2 linked regions of the Homo sapiens genome follow. The protein of the gene in region 1 interacts with the protein of each later gene in a biochemical or structural test. Each region holds a gene or a part of one and is shown on either strand. Other genes may lie near its edges.

Region 1 (7,722 bases):
ATAATTAAAGGCCTGGCGCGGTGGCTCACGCCTGTAATCCCAGCACTTTGGGAGGCCGAGGCGGGCAGATCACGATGCCAGGAGATCAACACCATCCTGGCTAACACGGTGAAACCCCGTCTCTACTAAAAATACAAAAAATTAGCCGGGTGTGGTGGTGGGTGCCTGTAGTCCCAGCTACTCGGGAGGCTGAGGCAGGAGAATGGCGTGAACCCGGGAGGCGGAGCTTGCAGTGAGCCGAGATCGCACCATTGCACTCCGGCCTGGGCAACAGAGCGAGACTCTGTCTCAAAAAAAAAAAAAAAGCAAAAATAAATATTTAAAAATAAAATAAGGTGTGGGGGGCTCCTCAGGCAAGCTGGGGTCTTAAGGGAGGGAACTCCTTTAGCAGCCAGCTTCAGAGAGCACAGAATTGGGGGGCAGACGATTCTTGTACCTAATTTGGGGTGGAGGACGTTGGTTTGGCCTCGCTGGGAAGGGACTACCTTAGCTGCACAGAACAAGATGGCTTCAGCCCCTCACTCACCTCCTTTGCCATTGTAGATGTAGCTCTCCCAAAAGCGCTCCTTGAGGGGGAAGGAGTGGAAAAGAAGGGGAAAAAGCAGGAATTCAGCTGGGAGGTTCACACCCCCAAACTAGCCCATCCTGATTTCTGAGACACCAAGGAGGAGGGAGCTGAAGGCCAGAACCTACCCCTGCAACCTCCCCACAGGTATAGAGAAGAGAGAGGGCCCGAAACTCCAGGGTCTCGAGGCCCTCACCGTGAGAGTGTTGTCCTCAAAATACTCCCTGGCCTCTTCCCAGGAACACCTCTCTTCCAGACACTCCCGTTCCAGGTTCCCTGGTGTGAGCAGCTCCAGGTCCCAGTGGTTGGCTCTTGGAATCCGGGTATGGCTACTCAGGAAGCTCTGGGCCTCTGGGGGACCCAGGAAGACTTCTGGACCCAAAGACATGAGGGACAGAAAAATGGAGGGTCCCTAGGGCTGGAGTCATAGGGGGATGGAAAGCAGTGGGGTCCTGGAGGAAGGAGCAGGGGCTGGGAATCCAGATTCCTGGGTCTGAAGGAGGAAGGGGCTGGGTCCTGGACTCCTGGAAGAGGAAGGACTAGAAACATTCCTGAGTCAGGGGGAGGCCAACGCCAAGTGTCTGGATGCCACTTCCCCCAAACACTCACCTTGGTCTGTCTCCTCACTGGGTGAAGTATCCAGGCAGGTGGTTAATGCCATATATAGCAGCAGCAGAGAGGGGTGGCCCCTCATATTTTCCAGACACCTAGAACCAGGTTTGTTACAGCTGACAAGGGCCTTAGTCCCTGGGTAATGAGGCAGTGCCTCTCTGACTGGCCTCTGTGGTCCACGAATGGCAATAATAGCAGCCACTTACACAGCCTGTATTCTGTGCCAGATACTGTTTACCTATATAAACTCATTTTACTTTTTTTTTTTTTTGACATGGAGTCTCGCTCTGTCAGCCAGGCTGGAGTGCAGTGGCACAGTCTCAGCTCACTGCAACCTCTGTGTCCTGGGTTCAAGCGATTCTCGTGCCTCAGCCTACCAAGTAGCTGGGATTACAGGCATGCGCCACCACACCCGCTAATTTTCTTTTTTTTTTGAGACAGAGTCTCGCTCTGTCACCCAGGCTAGAGTGCATTGGTGTGATCTCCGCTCACTGCACACTCCACCCCCCAGGTTCATGCCATTCTCCTGCCTCAGCCTCCCGAGTAGCTGGGACTACAGGTGCCGGCCACCATGCCCGGCTAATTTTTTTGTATTTTTAGTAGAGATGGGGTTTCACTGTGTTAGTCAGGATGGTCTCGATCTCCTGACCTCGTGATCTGCCCGCCTCAGCCTCCCAAAGTGAATTTTCATATTTTTAGTAGAGATGGGGTTTCACCATGTTGGCCAGGCTGGTCTTGAATTCCTGACCTCAAGTGATCTGCCTGCCTCAGCCTCCCAAAGTGCTGGTGCTGGGATTACAGGCGTGAGCCACTGTGCCCGGCCTCAACTCATTTTACTTTTCACAGGAGTCATACAAAAATTAGCCAGGCGTGGTTGTGGGCGCCTGTAATCCCAACTACTTGGGAGGCTGAGCCAGAATAATCACTTGAAAGGGGAGACAGAGGTTGCAGTGAGCCGAGACTGTGCCACTGCACTCCAGCCTGGGTGACAGAGCGAGATTCCATGTCAAAAACAAAACAAAACAAAACTTTTCACAGGAGTTTTTTTTTTTTTTTTTTTTTAGACAGAGTCTCGCTCTGTCACCCAGGCTGGAGTGCAGTGGCGCTATCTCAGCTCACTGTGACCTCTGCCTCCTGGGTTCAAGCGATTCTCCTGACTCAGCCTCCCGGGTAGTTGAGATTACAGGTGCGCACCACCACGCCTGGCTAATTTTTTGTATTTTTAGTAGAGATGGGGTTTCACCATGTTGGCCAGGCTGGTCTCAAACTCCTGACCTCAAGTGATCCACCCGCCTCGGCCTCCCAAAGTGCTGGGATTACAGGTGTGAGCCACTGCGCCCGACCAGGAGTCCTATTATTATCCCCAGTATAGAGAACAGGAAACTGAGGCACAGAGAGGTAATATAGCTTGCCGAAGGTCACACAGTGTGCAAGTGTGAGAGCCAGGATTTCAGTGAAGGCAGTGTCCGCCAGAGAAGAAAGCAAGGAGCAGGCAGCTTATCTTTCTTTCCCCACTGTGTCTACAGCACCTGACACAGATGCTTATAAACATGTCCACTGGTGATCTGGAGTCTTCCCTTCCTGGTAATTTCCACTTGTGCCTCTTTCTGTGCTCATTGTCACATCCACCCACAGACAACAAAGATTACGAGAGAGGCAGAGGCAGGGGATTAGTTATATTATTGGGTCTAGGGACCTAAGTGGGCAGGGGCCCTGGACTCCTGGGCCTAGGAGCCCCAAACTTCTGGGTCTCGGAGGGGCGGGGAGCCAGGATGCCTGGGTCCCCAAGCCAGGCTCTTCCTCCAGGGACATTCACTTACCTGCCCAGAAATGTGAGCACTGCCCCTTCCTCTTTAATCGAGAACTCCTTGGCCAGCTACAGCCAGCTGTGAAAGGGGACAGGGAAGAGGGGAGGGGATAAGGAGGAGGGGCGCCCCACTCCCGGTAACCAGGCCTGATCCCCGTTTCTGGCAGGTGGGCGGAACTTGCCATTACCTGCCCTGGGCGGGACTCAGGTAAGGGACAAAGTATTTAAAGGGACCTTGGGATAAAGGACTTAAAGGCCAGAGCTCCATGAGGAAGCCAAGGTGTCGAATACCATGGGATACCTGGGGGATTAGATTCGACCCTCCTCCTCCCTCCCGACCCCTACCCGCTCTGGCTCTCCCCTGGGAGTTCGTCTGTCCGAGCTAGAAAAATTAATATCTAGGTCTCTAGGTATCTAGAAACTAGCGGGAACGATATGCCTTAGTCCCTGGGACAGCTGGGCAGTGCCGCAGTAAATCCCTGTTTCCTGAGAGCGACTTGAACGGCTTTGATTTTCAATTTCCCAATGGCTCTGTCTGTAAAATGGGAGCGTAGTTGTCTCTTCTCAATTGTTTTAAGATGCAGCAAGAAAAGTGGATGATATATTTGGGAAAGTGGGCTTCCCGATCTCTAGGGGAAGTGATTAGTCCTTAAATTTGGGCTTGGAGAGACTCAAAACCTGGGAACCAAGCAGGAAAAAACGATCTCCCTGGGAAATGCCTCGTACATAGTAAGCGTTCCCCATATTCCCACCAGTTTCAATATCCGGAACTTTCGATTAGCTACTCACGTTTCCGGAGAGAGAAAGAGAAGAGAGGACTTGAGCAAGCCAGGCGAGGCACTTCCGCAACTAGGGGCAGCTCTACTTCCGGTGCCTTCTGCTGGGCGGAAGTGGGCGGAGCGGAGGGGGAAAATAGTGCTCCTTTCCGGTGTCGGGGCACAGTTGAAGAAGCGACCGAGGGACTGGGAGTCGTTAGTGAGGTGAGTTCGAGGCGGTGCAGGAAGAGTGTTGCTGGGATCGCTTTCCTGCGGGCTAGAGGCCTGGGGTCTTGAGGGAGACTGGGGCAAGATTTTGGATTCCCGATTCCCTGTCAATCATTATTAATACAGCTGTCCGGGCGCCCCAAGTTTGAAGCTGAACTACACTCTGCTGGAGGTGGCCAACCGTCCATCGGGCAGTTCTCTCTCTCTTTGTCTCTCTCTCTCACTATAAACTCAGTCAAGTGGTAGCTAGCATCGGCCAGTTCTCCTGAGAGTTACAGTTCTGCTGTAGATGATGGCTATTTGCTGGTGGTCCCAAGGGAAGGAGTGGACTGGGATTGCTGGGGGTCTAAGGAGTGGGAGTTGAGGAGGGAGAACTCCTTTCCTGGCCTCAGTTTCTCAGACTGTGGTGGGACGGCGGGCGATACTAGATTGTGCAGTCATCCATCGCCACCTTCTCTTCACCTTTTTGACAGCCCCTTCCCTTTCGGGGTTGGTGCAGGGATTCACGTTTTCTTGTGTGGAGCTTCGGGGTCAGGCAGTCATGGATTCCCATTCTGATTGTGCTGCTAATTCTGTGAACTTGGGGCTTGAACGGTCCTTGAGGCAGTTTGATGTTAATGTTTTCTTACGAAAATGTTCAAACTTATATAAAAGTGAGAGAAGAATACAGGAATTCCTGTCACCCAAATCACCAATGATTATTTTTGCCATACTTGCTGTATTTTTTTAAACTTAAAGAGATTAAAACAAATCGTAGGCATCATGACACTTAAGGATTGTCAAAAGACAAAATTGCAACACATTTAGTGAGAAGATCTTAATTGGCATTTATTCGTGAATCTACAATCAAACAACATCTAATTATGGAAAATAGCGTGAGTGTTCCGATGAGCTGAGCAGAGGTTGTTTTCAGAGACAAAGGGCTGAGAAAATCAGAAACGGAAAACAAAAAGCTAGTTGATTAAATTGATTAACTTGATTAAATTTCTAAGTTAAAGGTTAAAGTAGAGGGGACTTCCTTTATCAGGTGGGCTAAAACTGGGTTGTTTGGGGATTTGGCTATTATCTCTCTCCTGATATCTCAGAAGATCAGATATCAACTTAGTTTTGGCTTGGAAGCATGGAACTTTAGCATGAGTGTCTCCATTTTGGTTTGGTCTGTTGAACCTAGTGCAGGAGCTCAATCCAAACCAATGACCTTCTATAAATTTTATCTAACAGGGTGCGTGTGTAAAAACCAGAAACATTGCTGATATGACCACAATACCATCATCACACTTTAAAAGAACAACCGTAATTCTAGACTACTATCCATTACGTGGTGCAGAGTCAAGTCCAGTGTAACTGTGGGTTTGTTGGAATCAGGATATAGTTAAGTAATTGCTATCGTCTTTTACATCTCTCTTAATTTAGAACTGTTCCCCCTTCCACTCCACTTTGGTTATTTCTTGGTGTAATCGATTCATTGAAGAAACTAATTCTAGTTCAGTTGATCATCCCACCATCTGAATTTGTCCCGTTTGCTTTTTTGTGGTCTCATTTTACCTGCTTCTGTTTTCTTTCTTTTTTTTTTTAAGTATTTAAAAATAGGCCAGACACAGTGGCTCATGCCTGTAATCCCAGCACTTTGGGAGGCCAAGGCGGGCGGATCATGAGATCAGGAGATCAAGACCATCCTGGCTAACACGGTGAAACCCCTTAGCCGGGCATGATGGCAGGCACCTGTAGTCCCAGCTACTCAGGAGGCTGAGGCAGGAGAATTGCGTGAACCCGGGAGGCAGAGCTTGCAGTGAGCCGAGATCACGCCACTGCACTCTAGCCTGGGCGACAGAGTGAGACTCTGTCTCAAAAAAAAAAAAGAAAAAATAGATAGAGACAAGGTGTCACTATGTTGCCCAGGCTGGTCTCAAACTCCTGGGCTTAAGCGATCCTCCTGCCTTGGCCTCCCAAAGTGCTGTGCTTAGATTACAGGTGTGAGCCATTGAGCCCGGCCTCATTTTACTTGTTTCCTCATGCCAGGGATCAGCTAATTATGTTCTACAGACCAAACTCAAATCCTGCCAGCTACCTGTTTTAAAAATCCCCATTGGGCAGGCACAGTGGCTCATGCCTGTAATCCTTGCACTTTGGGAGGTGAAGGCAGGTGGATCATCTGAGGTCAGGAGTTCGAAACCAGCCTGGCCAACATGGTAAAACCTCATCTCTACTAAAAATACAAAAATTGGCTGGTCATGGTGGCTGGCACCTATAATCCCAGCTACTCAGGAGGCTGAGGCAGGAGAATTGCTTGAACCCTAGGGACAGAGGTTGCAGTGAGCTGAGATCATGCCACTTCACTCCAGCCTGGGCAAAAGAGCATAACTCCCTCTCAAAAAAAAAAAGCATTAGTGGGATATGATTTACCTAACATATAGTTCACCCATTGAAAATATACAATTCAGTGGTGTTTAGTACGTTGACAGAGTTGTGCAACCATCAACACTATCATTTTAAGAATATTTTCATCACCCAAAAAGAAACCCTGGTACTCATTAGCAGTCATTCCCTATTTCCTCCCAATCCTTCCCACCCCAGTCTTTGGCAGCCACTACTCTGCTATATCTGTGGATTTGCCTAATCTGGGTATTTTGCACAAATGAAACCATAAAATATTATTGTGACTGCCTTCCTTCTTTCATTTAGCATGTTTTCAAGGTTCACCTATGTTGTGGCATGTATCAATACTTCTTTTTTTTTTTTTTTTTCCCGAGACACGGCCTTGCTCTGTTACCCAGGCTGGAGTGCAGTGGTTCGATCATGGCTCACTGCAGCCTCAACCTCCTGGGTTCAAGTGATCCTCCTGCCTTGGCCTCCCAAAGTACTGGGATTACAGGTGTGAGCCATCGGCGCCCAGCCAGCTACTTTATTCTTTTTATGGCTGGATAATATTCCTTTACCCAAGATATACTTCTTTTCTTTTTTTTTCTTTTTTTGAGACAGAGTCTTGCTCTGTCACCCAGGCTGGAGTGCAGTGGCGTGATCTCGGCTCCCAGGTTTGAGCGACTCTCCTGCCTCAGCCTCCCGACTAGCTGGGGCTACAGGCATGCGCTACCACGCCTAGCTAATTTTTGTATTTTTAGTAGAGATGGGGTTTCGCCATGTTGGCCAGGATGGTCTCGATTTCTTGACCTCATGATCCGCCCGCTTTGGCCTCCCAAAGTGCTGGGATTACAGGCATGAGCCACCGCGCCCCGCCTGCATGGATGTATGTTTTTATTTCTATTGGCAGTGGAATTGCTGGGTCAAAAGGTGACTATTTAACCTTTTGAGAAACTGTGACTTTTCCAGAATGGCTGTACCATTTTACATTTCTACCACCAATGTATAAGGGTTCCAGTTTCTCCATATCCACACCAGCACTTATTATTTATCTTTTTGATTATAGTCATTCTAGGGGGTGTGAACTGGTGTCTTTTAACATGCTTATTGGCCATTTGTAGATCTTTGAAGAACTGTCTATTCCAATCCTTTACCCATTTTCAAATTGTGTTAGGTGTCCTTTCATTATTGAGTTGTAAGTTTTTAATATATTCTCACTGCAATTCCCTTATCAGATATCCTGATTTTTTTTTTTTTTTTTTTTTTTTTGAGACAGAGTTTCACTCTTGTTGCCTAGGCTGGAGTGCAATGGTGCGATCTTGGCTCATCACGACCTTCGCCTCCCAGGTTCAAGTGATTGTCCCATTTCAGCCTCCCGAGTAGCTGGGATTACAGGT
Region 2 (7,800 bases), on another chromosome or scaffold:
ATTACTGCCGGAAATTCTCACAGGAGCGTGAACCCTACTGTGAAATGTGCATTCAAGGATCTAGGTTGCACACCCCTTATGAGAAACCATTGCCTGTCTGATAAGAGGTGGAACAGTTTCATCCCAAAGCCATCTCCCCCGGACCATCTGTGGAAAAATTATCTTCCATGAAACCGATCCCAGGTGCCAAAAAGGTTGACTGCTATAAGGTAAGGCAAGCCACTGGTGACACAACCTGGAACATACTGAGAGCTACATTAAAATGCTTGCAAATATGGTAGGTTCAAACAACATACCAAATGTTGTGTCATTTCTACTGCAATAGGAGTAACTTCTTCACTATATTCACAGATCATTTTCTGAATTACATTGGTAAGGTCATCATTTTCTGTTTCTCTTATAATGTGAAGAAGAGCCTGCATTACAGGTCTGATGAATGGTGTGATATATTCTTTAGCTGTAAGAGAAAGAGTAAAAAACTTGCGTAAAACCCCTAAAACTTCTTAAAACCTGATATAACAAATATCGATGAGTTTTTTAAAAAAGTACTTTCACATAAAAAGGAAGTATGCCAAGTTTCTAGGATTATGGCTTTTTACAATTAATATATATATATATATTTTATAAGAGGCAGGGTTTTGATCTGTTGCCCAGGCTGGAGGGTAGTGGCAATCGTAGCACACTGCAGCCTCGAACCGTCGGGCTCTAGTGATCCTGCTGCCTCAGACTCCCAAGTAGCTGGCACTACAGGTACATGCCACTATGTCCAGTTAATTTTTAAAAATTTTTTTTGTAGAGATGTTGCCCAGGCTGGTCTTGAACACCTGGCTTCAAGCGCTCTTCCCACCTAAGCCTACCGAAGTGCTAAGATTACAGGTGTGACCTACCGCACCTGGCCAACATTCACTTTTCTTGACATACAAAAATCCTTTACCTTTTTCTTGATTGCTGATCAATACTTGAAGGGCAATGGCAGCTTCCACTTTCACAGGCATTTCTCTATCATCAATCAGACATCTTCTTGTTAGCTCTAAGGCTGTTTGAAGGTTCTGATCACTTTTGAACTTCACTTCACAAAAATAGTGAAGTACCCAGCAAGCCTTTTGTAAAAACACAGTGAGTTACTGTAGATACCTTACCTTAAATTCCCCCAAGCTAATCTCTATTCCCTGAGTTCTGTGTGTGGGAATTTGGAGGCTGGCCAGTGGTAGATGTGTCCAGAGACAACACTAGACCAGTACTATGATCCCAAGTTACTCTTTGGCCGCATGATGTTTGTGTGGATAGCAAGATCTGAATGAAAAACACAGACAGACACTGCTACCAGACACAGATGAAACCTATGCACACATTACAGCAGCCATGTAAAGATTTACATTAAACAGAAACCTAAAATAAGACACAGGCTTCAAAGTGAACATTTAAAAGTTTCAATATAAAAGTCCACAGAGTCATTCATTACAAGACAAAAGTATATAAATAATGCAGCTTTAAAACATACCCTTGCTCTCATGTAGCCTAGTTCACTGCTGAAGAGAGGGAATACATGATTCTGCAACATGTATTCCATCTGATCTTTATAGATCTTTTTCTGTAAATATAAACAACAGTTATTTTGATACAGTTCCAAATATAATCATCTCAATTTCCAAACAGATATAACACTATTAAAAATGACTATTAATGTTACATATATTTATTCTCATTCTTTGAACCCCAGAATCCACAACCAATTTTCGTATTCCAGAACTTCACCACCAAAAACCACTAAACACATTTTCACGTTTTTATATTCCTTGATTAGAAAGCCATTATGCCAAATCTTACCAGCAATAGTGTTCGAATGATGTAAGTTTGGTTAATTTTATCTGTTACTATGAAACTTTTATAAGGAAAAAACTTGTCTGATAAAGTTTCTGGCTGAAAATAACATAACCTGAGAAAAATCCTGCTTTCAAACGAATAAACTGGCTATCTAAAAAGGCACACTCTTTTTTTTTTCTTTTTTTTTGAGACGGAGTCTTGCTGTGTTGCCCAGGCTGGAGTGCAGTGGCACAATTTCGGCTCACTGCAATGTCCACCTCCCAGATTCAAGTGATTCTCTAAAAAGGCACTCTCAGTATTCAAAGTGAGTATTTTCTAAGTGGAAAGAAGCTTTTTAGAAGAGTTCCTTAAACTGCACATTAAATCAACATTAAAAACATAAGACACTTATATATCAACACTTACATAATCAGACATGACAACTTAATGCAATGTGAGACCCTAGACTGGGTCATGGAACAGAAAAAAGGACATAGTGGGAAATCTTGTGAAACTTTAAAAAGGTCCATGGATTAGTTGATAGTAGCATACCAAAATCAACTTCATGTTTTTGATAACTTTGCCTACCTATGTAAGGTATTACCACTAAGTGAAGCTGAGTGAAAGGTAAGAATAGATAAACTTGAATTTGCCAAGAGAACTCACTAATTCTCAGCCTTCTATGCCACAAATGATTAGAATGTCTTTAATACATACTTTATAAACAAAGAGAAGGATGGGTGAACAGGTATAGAAAAGATGAAAGACGGCCGGGTGCAGTGATTCACGCCTGTAATCCCAGCATTTTGGGAAGCCGAGGCGGGTGGATCACCTGAGGTCAGGAGTTCGAGACCAGCCAGGCCAACATGGTGAAACCCCATCTCTACTGAAAATACAAAAATTAGCTGGTGTGGTGGCAGGTGTCTGCAGTCCCAGCTACTCGGGAGGCTGAGGCAGGAGAATCGCTTGAACTCAGGAGGTGGAGGTTGTAGTAAGCAGAGATCACGCCACTGCACTCCAACCTGTATAACAGAACGAGGCTCCATTTCCAAAAAACGAAAAGATAAAAGACACAATGACTAAATATTCTGTGAGTACTTAGTGCCTGGCTTTAGAATGTAAAGATTTCTAACAACTCAATTATAAAAAGACAAATAACCCAATTAAAAATGGGCAAGGGCCAGGCACAGTGGCTCACGCCTGTAATCCTGGCACTTTGGGAGGCTGAGGCAGGCGGATCACCTGAAGCCAGGAGTTTGAGACCAGCCTGGCCAACATGGCAAAACCCCATCTCTACTAAAAATACAAAAATTAGGCTGGGGGCAGGCACCTGAGGCATGAGAATCACTTGAACCCGGAAGGTAGAGGTTGCAGTGAGTCGAGATTGCGCCACTGCACTCCAGCATATGGCGGGGGGGCGGGGAGGCGGAAATCTCAGCTACTTGGGAGGCTGAGGCAGGAGAATCACTTTAATGTGGGAGACTGGTGGCTGCAGCGAGCCAAGATCTCACCACTGCACTCCAGCCTGGGTGACAGAGCAAGACTCCATCTCAAAAAATAAAAAGAAAAAAAACAAAGGCAAGCAATTTTTTTGGGGCAAGGAATTTGAATAGATATTCTCTAAAGAAAATATACAAACGGATAGTAAGCACATGAAAAATTTCAAAGCCACAAAGACATAATGCTTCACGTTCACTAGGATGGCTATAATCAAAATATACTGCTGGCAGAAATATAAAATGGTATAGCTACGTTGGAAAATGGGTTCTGCGGTGTCTCAAATTATGACAAGCAATTCATACTCCTAGGTATATACCCATGAAAAATGAAAACGTATGTCCACATAAAAATTTAAACATGAATGTTCACAGCAACATTTGTAAGCAGCCAGAAAGTAGAAACAACTAATGAATGAGTAAATAAAATGTGGTATATTAATATAATGAAATATAATTTGGCAACAAAAAGGAAAAAGTACTGAAACCTGCTATAACACAGATAATCCTTGAAAACATTACACTAAATGAAAGAAGTCACCCACAAAGAGCTACGTATTATATGATTCCATTTATATAAAATGTCCACAATAAACAAATCCATAGAAAAAATGTGGACTATAGGTAGCCTAGGGTTGGGAGATTTGGGGTGATATGTGGAGTGACTGCTAATGTATACAGAGTTCCTTCTGGGGGTGATAGTTATACAACTGTGAATAAACTAAAAACCACTGAGTTGTACACTCCATAAGGTTGTTATTTTTTATTTTTTTATTTTTTTTTGAGACGGAGTCTCTGTCGCCTGGACTGGAGCATGGAGTGCAGTGGCATGACCTCGGCTCACTGCAGCCTCCGCCTCCCAAGTTCAAGTGATTCTCCTGCCTCAGCCTCCTAAGTAGCTGGGATTACAGGTGCCCACCACCATGCCCAGCTGATTTTTTTTTTTTTTTTTGGAGACAGAGTCTCACTCTGTCGCCCAGGCTGGATTGCAGTGGCGTGATCTCGGCTCACTGCAAACTCCACGTCCCGGGTTCAAGCCATTCTCCTGCCTCAGCCTCCTGAGTAGCTGGGACTACAGGCGCCAGCCACCATGCCCGGCTAATTTTTTATTTTTATTTTTAGTAGAGACGGGGTTTCACTGTGTTAGCCAGGATGGTCTCGATCTCCTGACCTCATGATCCACCCACCTCGGTCTCCCAAAATGCTGGGATTACAGGCGTGAGCCATCACGCCCGGCGGATTTTTGTATTTTTAGTAGAGACGGGGTTTCACCATGTTGGCCAGGCTGGTCTTCAACTGCTGACCTCAGGTGATCCCCCCGCCCTGGCCTCCCAAATAGCTGGGATTACAGGCATAAGCCACCACACCCGGCCTATTTTTTATCCTTATAGAGATGGGGGTATCACTATGTTGCCCAGGCTGTTCTCAAACTCCTGGGCTCAGGCAATCTGCCTGCCTCAGCATCCCGAAAGTGCTGGGATTATAGAAGTGAGCCACTGTGCCTGGCTGGCTATTTATTTTTTAAAACTACTTGCATAGTCATGCACATACAAACACACTAAAGAATACCTTCAGAAGTATTTCAGCTAAAGAGCCAATCATATGCAGGGCTCCATCTTTTTTTCGAGGGTCAGCATTTGGTTCTGTAAGAATCTGGTAACAAAATCCCATAGTCTTTTGCAGTACCTAGATTAAAAGAGAAAAGTATTGTTACTGAATAGGCCAACAGTCCTTAAAAAACATACTAACAAAATGACTCACATGACTAACATTTAAAAAGTGTATAGTTGAATAAATTTTAAATAATACAGAAAAGTTATCTAAACATTAAATAAGCCTACCTCTTTCCTCTTACTACAGGCTGTAAACAAAAGTGTCTGGGCAGCAGTGGTAGGAGAAATGAAATCTTCAAACACATCTAGAGAACAAGTTTAAAATTAAGACAATAAACATTAATTTCTTCAACAAAGCATTAAAAAACATGCTTAATCTTTACATAAGGTATGAAAATGATCCCAGATCCCTTTATAATTTTGCAAAAGCAGAATTCAATGTCTTTTCTGTACAAATTGAATGCTTTTGTTTGTTTTGAGATGGAGTCTCGCTCTGTCACTCAGGCTGGAGTGCAGTGGGCGATCTCGGCTCATTGTAACCTCCATCTCCCAGGTTCAAGCAATTCTCCTGCCTCAGCCTCCCAAGTAGCTGGTTTACAGGTGCCTGCCACCACGCCCGGCTAATTTTTGTATTTTTAGTAGAGATGGGGTTTCACTATATTGGTCAGGCTGGTCTCAAACTCCTGACCTCAAACGATCTGCCTGCCTCGGCCTCCCAACACGTTGGGATTTACAGGCCTTAGCCACCGCACCTGGCCTGTGAAAATTAAATGTTAATCCATGAATTCCTCCTAATAGCTTTCATTTTTATTTATTAACTCAGAACTCAGCAGTTTAAATCGTATGTATGAAACACTACTGATGTGAGAATTTTCACAACAGGGTCACAAAAGTACAAGCTGCAAAAAGCACAAATGACTTGGTAAGAATAAGGACCAATATTCAACATTATTAGCCAAATTACAATTCTTTAGTTCTGTGCAAGGACTTCATGTGACACCAGCTTCCTAGATGTGTTTTCTCATTTCCCACTCATATGATGGCTAACATAAGATCCAAAAGTATAGTTAAGACATTTAGTGTTGAGGTGTAATCTTGAATATCTAACAGTTTTGGTATTCAGTAATAAAAACTTAACAGTATTGAATTTGTGTCTGCCAAAAATAAGATTATCATTATCAAATGTCATAATTAATAAATAGCCCCAAAAAGGACTACACAAGGGATCAATTACATTAAAACAACAAAGAAGATACATAATACCCCCTAGGTTGGCTACATGCAATCACTGTAATCTTAATTACTGACATTTTTTGTTTCTAAAAACGTGAAAATTCCTTACCAAACTTCATGCGTATATATTCGTAAGGGTCTTCTTGCCAAAGTTCCTCATCAGCATCTGTATAGCACATCAATGGAAAAATAACATCTTGGATAATGCCCTGCAATTTAAAAGTTAAGAAAACAATAACCATCAGTTTTCAAATTTAAACCTTCAAATTTCCTTTAAGTATTAAAACCAAAGTAACACTATATGTATTTTAAAGCTTAATATCAAACGTTAGTAATGCATTTAATGTGTTCTAAGATCAACTATCAAACTACATGTACTTCCCCTTTCTGTAACAAGTAACTTTAAGATATATGTGTACAAAGGTCGCAATTAAGTATTCTAAATATATATAGTCTATAAAATTCTACAGCTCTAAATAAAGCACATAAATTATTCATAGAAATAGCAGGTAAGTCATTTATACTAGAAATGAATCTGGTGAGATAAAGTCCCTTGGCTACTCCAAATTACATGATAAAATATAATCATAGTCCAATATTAAGAACTTAAATTGCAAGTTTGAAGACAACAGTTTTGGATTAAAAGATAAGTTGAATATTCACAAGATACCTCTCATAACTTTATGTCACTGTCTTATCTCCTTTTTCTGCTATACTCTCAAAACAATCACCAGAAGTAGTCTAAGTAACACAACTCAACAAACATGCAATTTTTCAACCTTTATGGCAATTGATGTCATTTCTATTATATTTACTATAAAAACATTTCAGATAAAAATTATTACTTGTATATGGGGCTTCAGATTCTTCCAGGTGAGAGCATGAGAAACTCCTTGATTAATATAATTTAATGTCTGTTGTAAAACTCGAGGAGCCATATATTGCTTCTCCTTGTACTGATATAACACCTTCAATAAAACCTTGGAAAAAAATTTTCGATCACAAATCAATGTTCAAATAGAAATTTCAACCACTTACAAGCCAGTAAAAACAGTTAACACATATTTTAATGACAAGCTCATCATCAAGAAAAACAACCGTATACTTTGAAAAATAATTTAACTCATTTCTGATTAAGAATGAAAAGAAGAGAAAACTATATACTATCTTCGTTTTTCTGGGGTTTTTTTTGTTGTTGTTGTTAGAGACAGTGTCTCACTACGTTGCCCCGGCTGGTCTCTAACTCCTGGCCTCAAGCGATTCTCCCATCTCAGCCTCCCAAAGTGCTGGGATTACAGGTGTAAGTCACCACACCTAACCCATTTGCTACCTATTGAAAAACCACAGTATTGGGAGAAAACCCTATCTTGTTAAAGCCATCTTCTGGGAAAACCTTACCCAAAGCAGTCAACTGCCTATTTAGCATCTGTCAATAGTTCTAACTCTACTTCATGTTTCAGAACACTGACACACAAAATGTGGTCCACAAACCTCTAGTGGTCCCCAAGACTATTTCAGAGGATCTACTAGTTTAAAGCTACTTTCATAATGATATTGTCTTTTTTTAAAAAAAAAAACAAAACTGTGTTTTGAGTAAATGAGTATTTGCACCAATGGTACAAAACCATGGTGTTAAATGTTCTGATGCCTTATTT

What was found.
Region 2: the proteins of NOSIP (region 1) and IPO7 form a complex in vitro, tested with the Homo sapiens proteins (one study listed by BioGRID).

What each region holds. Positions count from the first base shown.
Region 1 is NC_000019.10:49,576,757-49,584,478, reverse strand, and holds the start of NOSIP (nitric oxide synthase-interacting protein), read left to right. Parts: upstream 1-3,922; 5' UTR 3,923-3,964; exon of another isoform or gene 3,965-5,338; intron 5,339-7,601; exon of another isoform or gene 7,602-7,720; intron 7,721-7,722. Other genes in the region: PRRG2 (transmembrane gamma-carboxyglutamic acid protein 2 isoform 1 precursor), read right to left, coding at 527-566, 762-937, 1,175-1,259. UniProt on the Homo sapiens protein: E3 ubiquitin-protein ligase that is essential for proper development of the forebrain, the eye, and the face. Catalyzes monoubiquitination of serine/threonine-protein phosphatase 2A (PP2A) catalytic subunit PPP2CA/PPP2CB.
Region 2 is NC_000011.10:9,422,331-9,430,130, reverse strand, and holds part of IPO7 (importin-7), read right to left. Parts: intron 7,126-7,800; coding exon 6,991-7,125; intron 6,355-6,990; coding exon 6,255-6,354; intron 5,218-6,254; coding exon 5,141-5,217; intron 4,986-5,140; coding exon 4,869-4,985; intron 1,592-4,868; coding exon 1,502-1,591; intron 1,366-1,501; exon of another isoform or gene 1,177-1,365; intron 1,101-1,176; coding exon 935-1,100; intron 458-934; coding exon 297-457; intron 1-296. UniProt on the Homo sapiens protein: Functions in nuclear protein import, either by acting as autonomous nuclear transport receptor or as an adapter-like protein in association with the importin-beta subunit KPNB1.